Regions from separate parts of the Homo sapiens genome. Here region 1 is linked to region 2. Evidence: fine-mapped expression QTL. A gene starts in region 2. The other region holds a variant in brackets. All regions are shown on one strand. Distances are between the middles of the regions.

What was found. PIP is the estimated chance that this variant, and not a neighbour inherited with it, causes the effect.
Region 1: its variant is the best candidate, but not a certain one, in a credible set for the expression of C1QL1 in transverse colon (CEDAR, PIP 0.56).

Annotation. Positions count from the first base shown.
Region 1 is chr17:45,088,201-45,093,564 of GRCh38, forward strand. The region is part of intron 3 of NMT1 (N-myristoyltransferase 1); the gene reads left to right. Among named protein-coding and RNA genes, the nearest start is that of MIR6784, 24 kb to the right of the region's middle. RefSeq lists an enhancer at 2,524-3,025. The variant GACACAC/G (reference allele first, on the strand shown) is at 2,987.
Region 2 is chr17:44,965,869-44,971,232 of GRCh38, forward strand. C1QL1 (complement C1q like 1) reads right to left here and starts at 2,435. Exons shown (of 2, transcript NM_006688.5): 1 at 1,584-2,435. The coding sequence starts at 2,180. It also overlaps the pseudogene LOC112268183. RefSeq lists silencers at 2,366-2,725, 4,562-4,631.

The DNA.
Region 1 (5,364 bases), 120 kb after region 2:
GCTAAGCCCTCCAGCAAGGCTTTGGGCCACAGGGTAGGGTCCCAGTGACCAGTTTCTCGCTGAGGAGCAGGAAAGATGCAGAGAGCCACACATCTCACCTCTGAATGAAATCCCTGATGAGGTGTTGTGTGGTGGCTGCCATGTATCTTGGCTCTGTTTTCAGATGGCATTTTGGAGTTTTGGTTTGATTTTATTTTTCCTGAGGAATTTGCAAATGAGTAACCTTGCTACATTCTTCACAGATAGTGGCACTTGGGAAAGAGGCAGATTGAGGCTGGGCGCAGTGGCTCACGCCTGTAATCCCAGCACTTTGGGAGGTCGAGGCAGGCGGATGACCTGAGGTCAGGAGTTCGAGACCAGCCTGGCCAACATGGTAAAACCTCGTCTCTACTAAAAATACAAAAACTAGCTGGGCTGGTGGCATGGGCCTGTGATCCCAGCTACTTGAGAGTCTGAGGTGGGAGAATCACTTGAACCTAGGAGACAGAGGTTGCAGTAAGCTGAGATCGCACCACTGCACTCCAGCCTGGGCAGCAGAGCAAGAATGCATCTCAAAAATGAATTTAAAAAAAAAAAAAAAGAGGCAGCTTGGGATTAATTTGCTTCTGTTCCTCTTCAGCCCAGCATACTTTGTTTTCCTTTCACCTGTAAATGTAGAAAGTGCTTCAGTTTAGTTCTCAGAAAGCTCAAGAGAAAACCACACAGTTGCTCATACGGGCCCTGACACTTTGAGGAAGGAGGAACAAGGTCTGGTTTTATTTCTTCTGGCTTTGCCTTCTGTGCAGTGTGTGGTGTCGGACTCCATGGAAGAGCAGTCACCCTGAGCATCTGACTAGTCTGCCTTTGAGGTCCAGGGTCAGTCAAGCCCCAGTTAGATTCCTGTGTTTGTGTCAGCCTGTAAAAAGTGCCACCTTGGCAGGCGTGTTAGCCTGCATGGCTGAGGCGTCACCCTAGTTCTGAGTTTTCTCAGGGGTGGTGGTACCTACAGCTTCTTGCCCTAATTTTTTTTTCACTTAATTGGAGGACTAATGATTATAAATCTCGTGCATATCAGCTGCACTGTGTTTTTACAGTACTCTCCACCTTCTTGGGAGAGTTTTAATTAGATGGTATTCCACTAAAGAAACCTACAAGTCTCTCTGATTTATTTATTTATTTATGAGACAGAGTCTCACTCTGTCGCCCAGGCTGGAGTGCAGTGGCGTTTTCTCGGCTCACTGCAACCTCTGCCTCCCAGGTTCAAGCAGTTCTCTGCCTCAGCCTCCCGAGTAGTTGGGATTACAGGTGCCCACCACCACGCCCGGCTAATTTTTGTATTTTTAGTAGAGACAGGGTTTCACCATCTTGGCCAGGCTGGTCTTGAACTCCTGACCTCGTGATCCACGTGCCTTGGCCTCCCAAAGTGCTAGGATTACAGGCATGAGCTACCGCACCCGGCCCTCTCTTTTATTTTCTTGAGACAGGATCTCGCTCTGCTGCCCAGGCTGGAGTGCAGTGGTATGATCATGGCTCACTGCAGCCTTGATCTCCTGGGCTCAAGCAATCCTCCCACCTTAGCCTCCTGAGTAGCTGGGACTACAGGTGCCTGCCACATGCCTGGCTAATTTTTAAATTTTTTGTGGAGACATGGTTTCACTATGTTGACCAGGCTGGTCTCAAACTCCTAGGCTCAAGCTGTCCTCCTGTCTTAGCCTCCCAAAGTGCTGGGATTATAGGCGTGAGCCACTGCACCTGACTGAGACCTGCAATTCTTTAGAAGCTTAAAATTATCCTAGGTTTACCATGGAAAGGCCTTCTTAGGCCGGGTGTAGTGGCTCAATGCCTGTAATCCCAGCACTTTGGGAGGCCAAGGCAGGAGGATTGCTTGAGCCCAGCAGCTCAAGACCAGCCTGGACAACAGGGAAAGACCTCGTCTCTACAAAAAAATTTAAAAATTAGCCAGACATGGTAGCACATGCCTATGGTCCCAGTTTCTCAGGAGACTGAGGTGGGAGGATCGTTTGAGTCCTGGAGGTCGAGGCTGTAGTGAGCCATGATCGTGCCACTGCACTCTAGCCTGGGTGACAAAGCGAGTCCCTGTCTCAAAGATTAAAAAATAAATAAATAAAAATGAAAGGCCTTCTTAGCAGAAGTGTTTTAGTCTGTGTAACAACTGTAAGAGCCGCAGATGAACTTTTGATCCCCCACTCGAGATCATGTCGTTCTTCTTTTTAAAGTCACCCCTTTCCCACTCATGTCAACGGAAGCAGTATCCTTTTCTGTCTTTGGTCAGTGGAATGCAGTGTGGCCACTCTGTTTTAAAAAGTCACTATCAAAGGGAGGATGTGCACTCACCTGGTTTCCATGGGTCCCAGAGAGAAGCTTCCCCTCTCTTTTTCCTCTCCTTGGCCTTTGTTTGGTTTAATGTTTTCCGCATCTCAGACATTCTCATTTCTCCGAAGTCCTTCACAGTTGCACCGCATTGCTTAGTTTTGGGTCTCTGATGTTTGATGTCATGGAGAGAATTTTGAGGGAAGAGTGTGCAGAAAGAAACCCATTGAAAGCTCAGGGTTTTCTTTAAACTTCCAGATTCTTTTAAAGCAAGTTCGAAGTGTCATCCTTAGTCATTTATTGGTTCATGTTGGCCTTGAGAGAATCAGCTGCATTCTTGCTGTGCTCTGCAGAGCAGCCTTCCACCCCTGCTCAGCAGGAGGTACTCAAAGGCCATTGTAAGGGAGAAGGCAGGCTGCTCCCCACAGAGCAGGACAAGCAGAGGCCATGATGCTGGCACCACACCGAGGACAGCACAGGAGCCTTGGGCTGCTTCTTGGCATCGAGGGCACTCCACAGTGGGAGTCTAGTAAAAGTGGCTGCTCCCTTTTCAGTGTTTCCTGTAGCTCTACTTTTTCACACCCACCCTGCCCCACATAGTCCACCTGCAGCCTGGCTGATTCCTAATTATCCTTGAGGTCTTGTCGTTAGATATTTCCTCTGAGAGGTCTTTCCT[GACACAC/G]ACACACACACACACACACACACACACACACACACACACACACACGTCCCATAGCACCCTGTACTTCATTCTTACTGGCCCTCACCATGCCGGGTGGCATGTGCATCCTTGCTCATCTCTTTGGTGTCCATGATGGTGAGGACCTGTGTCTGTTTCATTCGCCAGCCCCTGCCACAGAACTGGCACATTCTAGGATTCAGTGAACACTTGGTGAAGGAGTGAGTGAATGGAAGTGCCTGTTGCGTGTAGGACCTAGTAGCCAGCCTAAATGAGAAGATTTAGCCTTGAGGTTATTTTAGTACAATAGGGAAGACCATCAGTATTCTTGGCCATGGAAATAATTCAGGGGGAAAAAAAGAAGGTTCTGAAGTGTATAGGAAAAGGTATAAATTCAATACAAGTTGGGAAATTAGCACCTAGATAAGACTAGAGGGTCTGGCCCTCAGTTTTGTAGGCTCAAAAATGTTTTTTTAATATACATAGCTGTCAGTTGGAAGCGGATTGACTTAAATTCACAAGAGCTACTTTATGAATAATCAAATGGTGGGTTTTGGCTGGGCGCCGTGGCTCATGCTATAATCCCAGCATTTTGGGAGGCCAAGGCAGGAGGATCACTTGAGTCTAGGAGTTTGAGACCAGCCTGGGCAACAGTGAGACCTCATCTCTATGAAAAATAAAATTAGCCAGGCGTAGTGGCGCATGCCTATAGTCCCAACCACTCGAGAGGCTGAGATGGGAGGATCGTTTGGGCCTAGGAGGTCGAGGCTGTAGTGAACCAAGGTTACGCCACTGCATTCCAGCCTGGGCAACAGAGCAAGACCCCATCTCGCCAGTCATGAGTTTCCTAACTAGGGAAGAAAAATATGACCTCTCTCCCAAGCAAACCTGTTGGGAAGCCTGATTACCAACAGAGCAGGCTGCTTCCCTGTTGTGTGTCCCTGCACTTTCCAGATCCTGACCTGCAGCACGTGGATAATGACTCATTTATTTACTATTTCCCCAGAAGATGGTATGTCTCATGAGGACAGGGACTTGGTCCTTTTTCCTGCTGTACACTAGGGGCTGGCATGGTCACTGAGTCACTGGTGCACGGTTGGTGCTCAGTAATGTGTCTGATGGAAGAGGGTGAGATGATCAGTGCCAGCGGTGGTGTCGTGTGCTGCAGCCTGATGCAGCCCTTTCCACCACACTTGCCCCACAGATTATCATTCTGGGAAGGTCTAGAGCTTCCTGTTACATGTTAGAATGAAATGTTTGGACTTTGGGAGGCCGAGGCGGGTGGATCACTTGAGGCCAGGGGTTTGAAACCAGCCTGGCCAACATGGTGAAACTCCATCTCTACTGAAAAAAAAAAAACAAAACACCAAAATTAGCCAGCGTGGTGGCGGACACCTGTAATTCCAGCCACTCGGGAGTCTGAGGCAGGAGAATTGCTTGAACCAGGGAGGTGAAGGTTGCAGTGAGCCAAGATCGCACCACTGTACTCCAACCTGGGCGACAGAATGAGACTGTCTCAAAAAAAAAAAAAAGAAAAGAAAAGAAAAAAAAAATATTTGGGATCAGGAGTCTGAAAGTCAGTAAAAGCATGAATTGAGTGCCTAGTCTATACAGAGCCCTTTGCTAGGAACACTGTTACTGGGTTGGTCCCTTTTGAAGACTCCATTTTCCAAAATGCACTAAACATTGCATTCTTCCCAGTGTAAACATGAGTGAGCCCATTGTAGAACCGAAATCATCCCAAGGGCCAGAATTCAGTGGTGAATCTCTCAGCATATATGAGTCCGATTGAGCTCTGGATAGGAATGAGGGCTGTGTCTTTGGAGCACTCCCCACATGCTCCCACAGAGGAGGGGCCTATCCTGCTCAGGGAGGGGATGTTGTGTCAGGGTGACTTCCCGGCAGCACTATGTAGACTTGGTGATTCAGCCCAAAGGCACTTGCAGGACTCTAAACACTGAGGGCCTGAGTTGGCAGTAGCAGTTAACTGGCTCACGCTGCTGAAAGCCAAGGCTGGCAGGGCCACGATTGAGCCTGGCGCCTAGAAGCCATCATCTGGTTCAGAAATGGGCCCAGTACATTGTTGTTGCTGTTGACACAAAAGCAGCCTTGTTGTGACTCCTTACAAACCCATCCAGACTGATGGGCCTGGGCCAGGGCCCTGACAGCACTCTTTACACCAACCAGGAGGCAGGAAGCCAAATTACTAAAGATAAATGTTTGTCATTCAGTGACCCAAGGGAGATTTAAATGGATTTCCAAAACACGAACCACCTTGGATCCCAGTGATTGTCCTGAGGTTTTGCCATGAATTGGCCCTCAGTTAGGGGCTAAGGGTAGCTGGAAAGACGGTTTGCAGTTGCCAAGCACAGAAT
Region 2 (5,364 bases):
TGACATTGCTGCATCCCTTATTGGTGATTAATAGGGGGAATCATGGGGCTGTCTGCAGAATGAGCCTTTGCTGGATACTGGGGCCTCCCATTTGGTCAGGAACCAAGGACAAAGAGGAGAGACACGGGGATGTCTGATAGACACACGTGGGAAAGAGAGACATACAAGGAATAGAGAAGAGTGGGGTTAGATCCGGGGAGGAGAGGCCAGAAACCCAGGGAGAGATGGAAAAGGCAGACACAGGAGAGAGATGGACAAGAAACAGCAAAATAGAAGAAAGAGGCAGGGGAGAGGCAGAAACCAGAGAAAAGGTGTTGGCGGGGCAGCAGCCAGGCAGAGGAAAGAGAAGAAGGGCTGACTTATAAGCACCTGGCAGGCTATCTGCTCACTTTCCCTGCCTGCCCCTGTCTCTGCCCCTAAGACTTGCAGACCCGCAGGCTGGCAGAGCCTCAGGGCAGTGCTGCTGTGGGAAGGGTTCCAACAAGGTCTTGTATCTTAATCGTGAGAGATTCCTTCTCAACTTCCACTAGCTCAGCTTTAGTTCTGACCAGTGGTCCCCTTCTTCGAAGAGAATGCTCAGCCTGACCACACCCCCAGGTCACAGGCCACCACGAGTGAGAGCACTGGGAAGGGAGGTGGTATCAAGAGAGCTGGCTAAAATTGTCACCCCAGGGCGGGGCTGGGTGGAGGCTGGTCCTGGGGTCGGCCATTCCAAGGAGAGCTACACGCACATGCGAGTCCCGGTACCAGAGTCCCCGACACACTCAGTGCTTTCCAGCTGCAGCGTCTGAGATGGGGACGGAGAATGGAGAGGACCCCACACACTCCAGAGTCAGGAGGGGCTGGAGCTGGGAGACCAAGAGGAGGGGGAGTTTCCATCTCTTCCACCACCCCCCACCCCCCACCCCCTCCCCGCCTCAGGAGGAAAAACTCCCCCGCCCCCCAGACTGCCTTCTTTTTGGGGAAGCTCTGCTACAGTGGGAAACAGCTCCCCAACTCCCGGATTTTGCAAAGGGTGTCAGATTCGCCCAATGGTCCCTTCTCCAGGGCAGGGGAGGCACTGCAGCCAGGGCTGTAAGCACCGGGCTCCCTTTGCCTTTGTGCCCCAAACATTTCCTGCAGCCAGCCTTCTCCGCTCGCGCCCATGGCCACGCGCCTAGGCGCCCGCGGGCGCGGATGCTGCTTCTCCCTGTTCCATACGCCAGAGCCCATCCTTGCCCTCCCCTTATCGCCCACTGCTGTCGGCCCGAATCCACTTCCCAAGGGGCAAGCCCCCAAGGGCAAGTCCGTGCACCTGGGAGCCCTGCGCTCTGACTAGTTGGGTTCATTTCCCGCATTTCCAGTAGCGTTCCAGACGGTGCCCAGCAGCGTCTGTCTTGGAGCGGGAACCCAGGAACTGAGGATCGGCGATGTCCGCTGGCTCCGACCATCCCCACACGTGATGACCAAGCGGGGCCGCTGTGGGGTGGGATCTCCACCTGCGTCCGCCTGGCGCCCCCGCCAACTCCGATCAGGTACCCATTTGCCCCGGGCTCCCTGGGTGCCCTGGGCCCAGCCCAGCCCCATGCCCCCGCCTGGCCCACCTGGCCATTCTTGCAGAGGTCTGCCCACATACTGGTGCCGTCGCCGCCGCGCATGAGGACATGGTAGGTGAAAAAGTAGGTGCCGGGAATGTTGCACGTAAACTTGCCGCTGGCCGCGTCGTAGTTGTTGCCTAGGTTGGTGACCACGTCGTCAAACTTGAGTACCTCGTAACCCTCGTGGGGGTTCTTGAGGCCGGCGTAGAAGGCCACGCGCGGCACCGTGGTGTAGGTGGCAGTGCTGATGGCGCCGCTGCCCCCCGCGCCCGGCAGCCCCGGAGGGCCCGGCTTGCCTGGCTCACCCTTCTCCCCCGGCGGCCCCACAGGGCCGGGAGGACCTGGGTCCCCGGGAGGCCCCGGAGGGCCGGGCTTGCCGGTGCGGCCCGGCTTCCCCTGGGGGCCCTGCACCAGCGTGGAAGGCGGGGGCGCGCCGCTCTGCTCGCTCAGGGCGTCGCCGCCGTCGGTCCGCGCGCCGGCGCCGGGGCCCCGCGCGGGGTAGGGGTCGCACACCATGCGGCAGGTGCCCAGCATCTCATAGTGGCCTTCCGGGCCGCCCGAGCTCACCAGCACGGGGATGAGCACCACCAGCACCAGCAGCATCACCACACCCGCGGCGGCCGCTAGCAGCGTCTTTCGGCCCGCGCGGAGCCTGGGGAGCGCCGGGCCGCCCGGCCGCGCCGTCGGGGCAATGGTGCCGGCGGGCAGGGGGCGCGGGCTAGGCGCCCGCGCTCAAGGACGGTCCGGCGGGGCTGCGGGCATGGGGCCGGGCCCGGGGCGCCGCGCTGCGCTGGCTGCGCTGCGGAGCCCAGCCGCCGGCTCCTGCCTCGCGCCTCCCTCCTGCTGCGCTGCCGGACTGAGCGCCGCGGCCGCCGCCTCCCGCCTCCCGCCTCCCGCCTGCAGCCTCCCGCCTGACTCCTCCCGCCTCCTTGAGCCGGGCCACCGCCCCCTCGGCCGGGCCCCGCCCCGCCAGCTCCGCGCGGCTCTGGGCTCTCTAGGGGTGGGGCTGCGGGCGGGGCCGGCGCCTAATTGGGCCGCGGGCGCCTCGAGGTGGGCGGGGCATAAGGGGGCGGGGCCGCGGAGACCCCGGGCGGGAGCAGGGAGAGGAAAGAAGAGACTGAGTACGCGGAGACCGAGATTCGGAAATGGGGTGGGGGCCGGGGTCCGAGAGACCCGAGAGGCGCTCCAAGGGAAGGGGAGAGTAGGGACCAAAATGCGAAAGGGAGAGAGGGCCACAGGGAGAGCTAGAGAGCTCCGAGGGGATCGGGAGAGGAGAGGCTTCGAGGGTCGGTCACCAGGAAAACAGAGGGACTGGGGTCGCGACGGGCCAAGACCCGCAGGGGGCGGAAGCGAGGGGATAGCGCCCAGGTCTGCAGGGGACAAAGAGCGATTGAGGGGAGGACGGAGCGGGGAGCTGGAAGGTAGGATGAGAAAGGGGGTTATGAAGCGAAGAAGAGGATACGGAGGGGACCATTTGGCACTCAGGCCTCGCAGACCACCCGTCTGGGAGATCCAGATATCGGATGAATGCCTGTCCGGGGGCCCAGCGGAGCCAGACGGCAGCCGCCTCCTCCTTTCTGGATCTGACTGTTCCGGGACCCGTCTCCCCCGAGGTGGGGCAGGAGCTTCCAACCCCTCCTCGCCTCTGCCCCTTCCTCACCGAACTGTGGCCAGGCTGCTTTTTCCTGGGCCCTTTTCTTCCATCTCCCTCTGCTCAATCCCTTTACTTCTGCCTCTAGACCAGGGAGAAAAGGGGATCCTAAAAAGGTGGGCACCCCCACGTTATTTCTCCATGCTGACAGATGCAAATACGTCCCTGAGGGGTAACCCCCTTTTCCAGCCTCCAGGATGAGGGGTGGATCTCATCCAGCCCCTCAGCTCCTCCTCCCTCACTCCCCAGCCTCCTCCGCCGCCCCCTAACTCTTCTCCCCATCAGGCTGTGGGAGGCTCTCCTCTTCCTCAAGTGCAGCAAAGTGTTTAGGTTGCATAAACCGAAACGTGTCTGCTTCCATCAAAATATTTGTCACATTATCTGAGGCCCAGGTCGGGCTGCTCCACCGCTCCTCCTTCGCCCTCCTTTATCCGGCCCACCGGGGAGGATTCAGCCATTCGGAGGCGACTGGCCGGCTGCTAAAGAATGACATCCCAGCCTCTCCTCTCCCGAGAGCTACCCCCCGCCGGCTCACACTCTCCCTGTTGACCCTTCACCATGGGCAAAATGATTCCCTGGCCTTCCCTACCCAAGGTTGAGGTCGCTCACCTCATCCAGGGCTGGGAGTAGAAGGACACAGGGACATCCAACGAGGGGGCTGTGAAAGAGGACCCTCCAAGCACTAATGGCTGAGGCCAGGTTGGAGTGACCCCACCACCACCAAGGAGGGAGCTAAAAAATTTTCAATAAGTAGCATTTATTCAGGGTTTACTCTGTGCTAGGCCCTGTGTTGAATGTTTTACATACATGATCACCCTTGATCTTCACATCAGTCCAAAGAAGTAAAATCCAAGATTATTTTAATTTTACAGATGGAGAACTGAGGCTCTGGGAAGTTAAGAGATTTGCTTAAAGTCACACAACTAATAAGTGGGAGAGCCGGGACTCAAACTCGTAGCCTGGCTCCAGGCTCTTCCAACCTCAGCGCGATAGAGTCTCTAGGTACCGTTTACTGCCCAAAGCCCAGGGGTAGGGGGCTCAGGGCAGCCAGACCTCCCTAGGCTCAGGAAGAGTAGTCTTCAGCGCTCGGCTGTCAGGCAATCCGGTCCCCGGTTCCCCACGGCGGTCTCCTCGGTGTGCCCCACCAAGAGCGACAGGGCTGGTGACCCGAGGGGCGCGTGCGCGGTCGTCAGCCTGGGATTTGCACGGACCCCCTTCTCCCTAGTACGCTCGCTCGGGGGCCCCTCCTCTGCTACGCCGCTGGGGCTCGCCCGCCACCCACAGCCCTCGCAGAGCCCTCCGGGCACACCGCGGCTGGCCGCCCGGGGCCAAGGATGGGGCGGGAGCGCCCACCCACCCCCGCGCCGGCCGGGGCATCCAAGAGGCGCGCTCGCAGCCACACGGCGCCCCGCCTCCCGCTCCGAAAAAGCTCCTGCTCCCCTGGCGCGGTGTGGCGTCTCCGTCAGCCCAGCCGGATTCTCCCCGCTTCGCTGGAGTGGAAAATAACGGCTTCAAACTTTGCAGAGAGGAGCTGGTGCCAGCACTTTAATTAACAGCCATCTTGGCCTGTGAGCTGGGGCCACCGGCTTGGCGCCTCCCCTGGGCTCGCCAAGCCCCGCCCTGGCTCCGCCCAGGCCCCCAAAGAAGCACCCCTTAACCACCTACCCGACCCTCCACCCCCATCCCCTGCTCTCAGCGCCCCTCTTTCCGGGAGATGAGGGCTTGGCTGATTGGGGAGAGAGTGCTGCCTTGAGGGGCATCTCCCAGCTTAACACCTGAAGACAGTCACAACCCCCCCATCCGCCATACTGCCCCCCAACATTGTTTAAAGCTGGACTGTTGAAGATTCTGAAATTAAAGACCTGAGTGCCAGCCGGGCGCGGTGGCTCACGTCTGTAATCCCAGCACTCTGGGAGGTTGAGGCCCGAGGATCGCTTGAGCTCAGGAGTTCCGAACAAGCCTGGGCAGCATAGGGAGATCCTGGCGTTGTGGCTTTTACCTGTAGTCCCAGCTACTCAGGAGGCTGAGGCGGGAGGATCGCTTGAGCCTGGGAGGTCGAGGCTGCAATAAGCTGAGATTGCGCCACTGCACTCCAGCCTGGGCGACAGAGCAAGACCCTGTCTCATTAAGAACAAA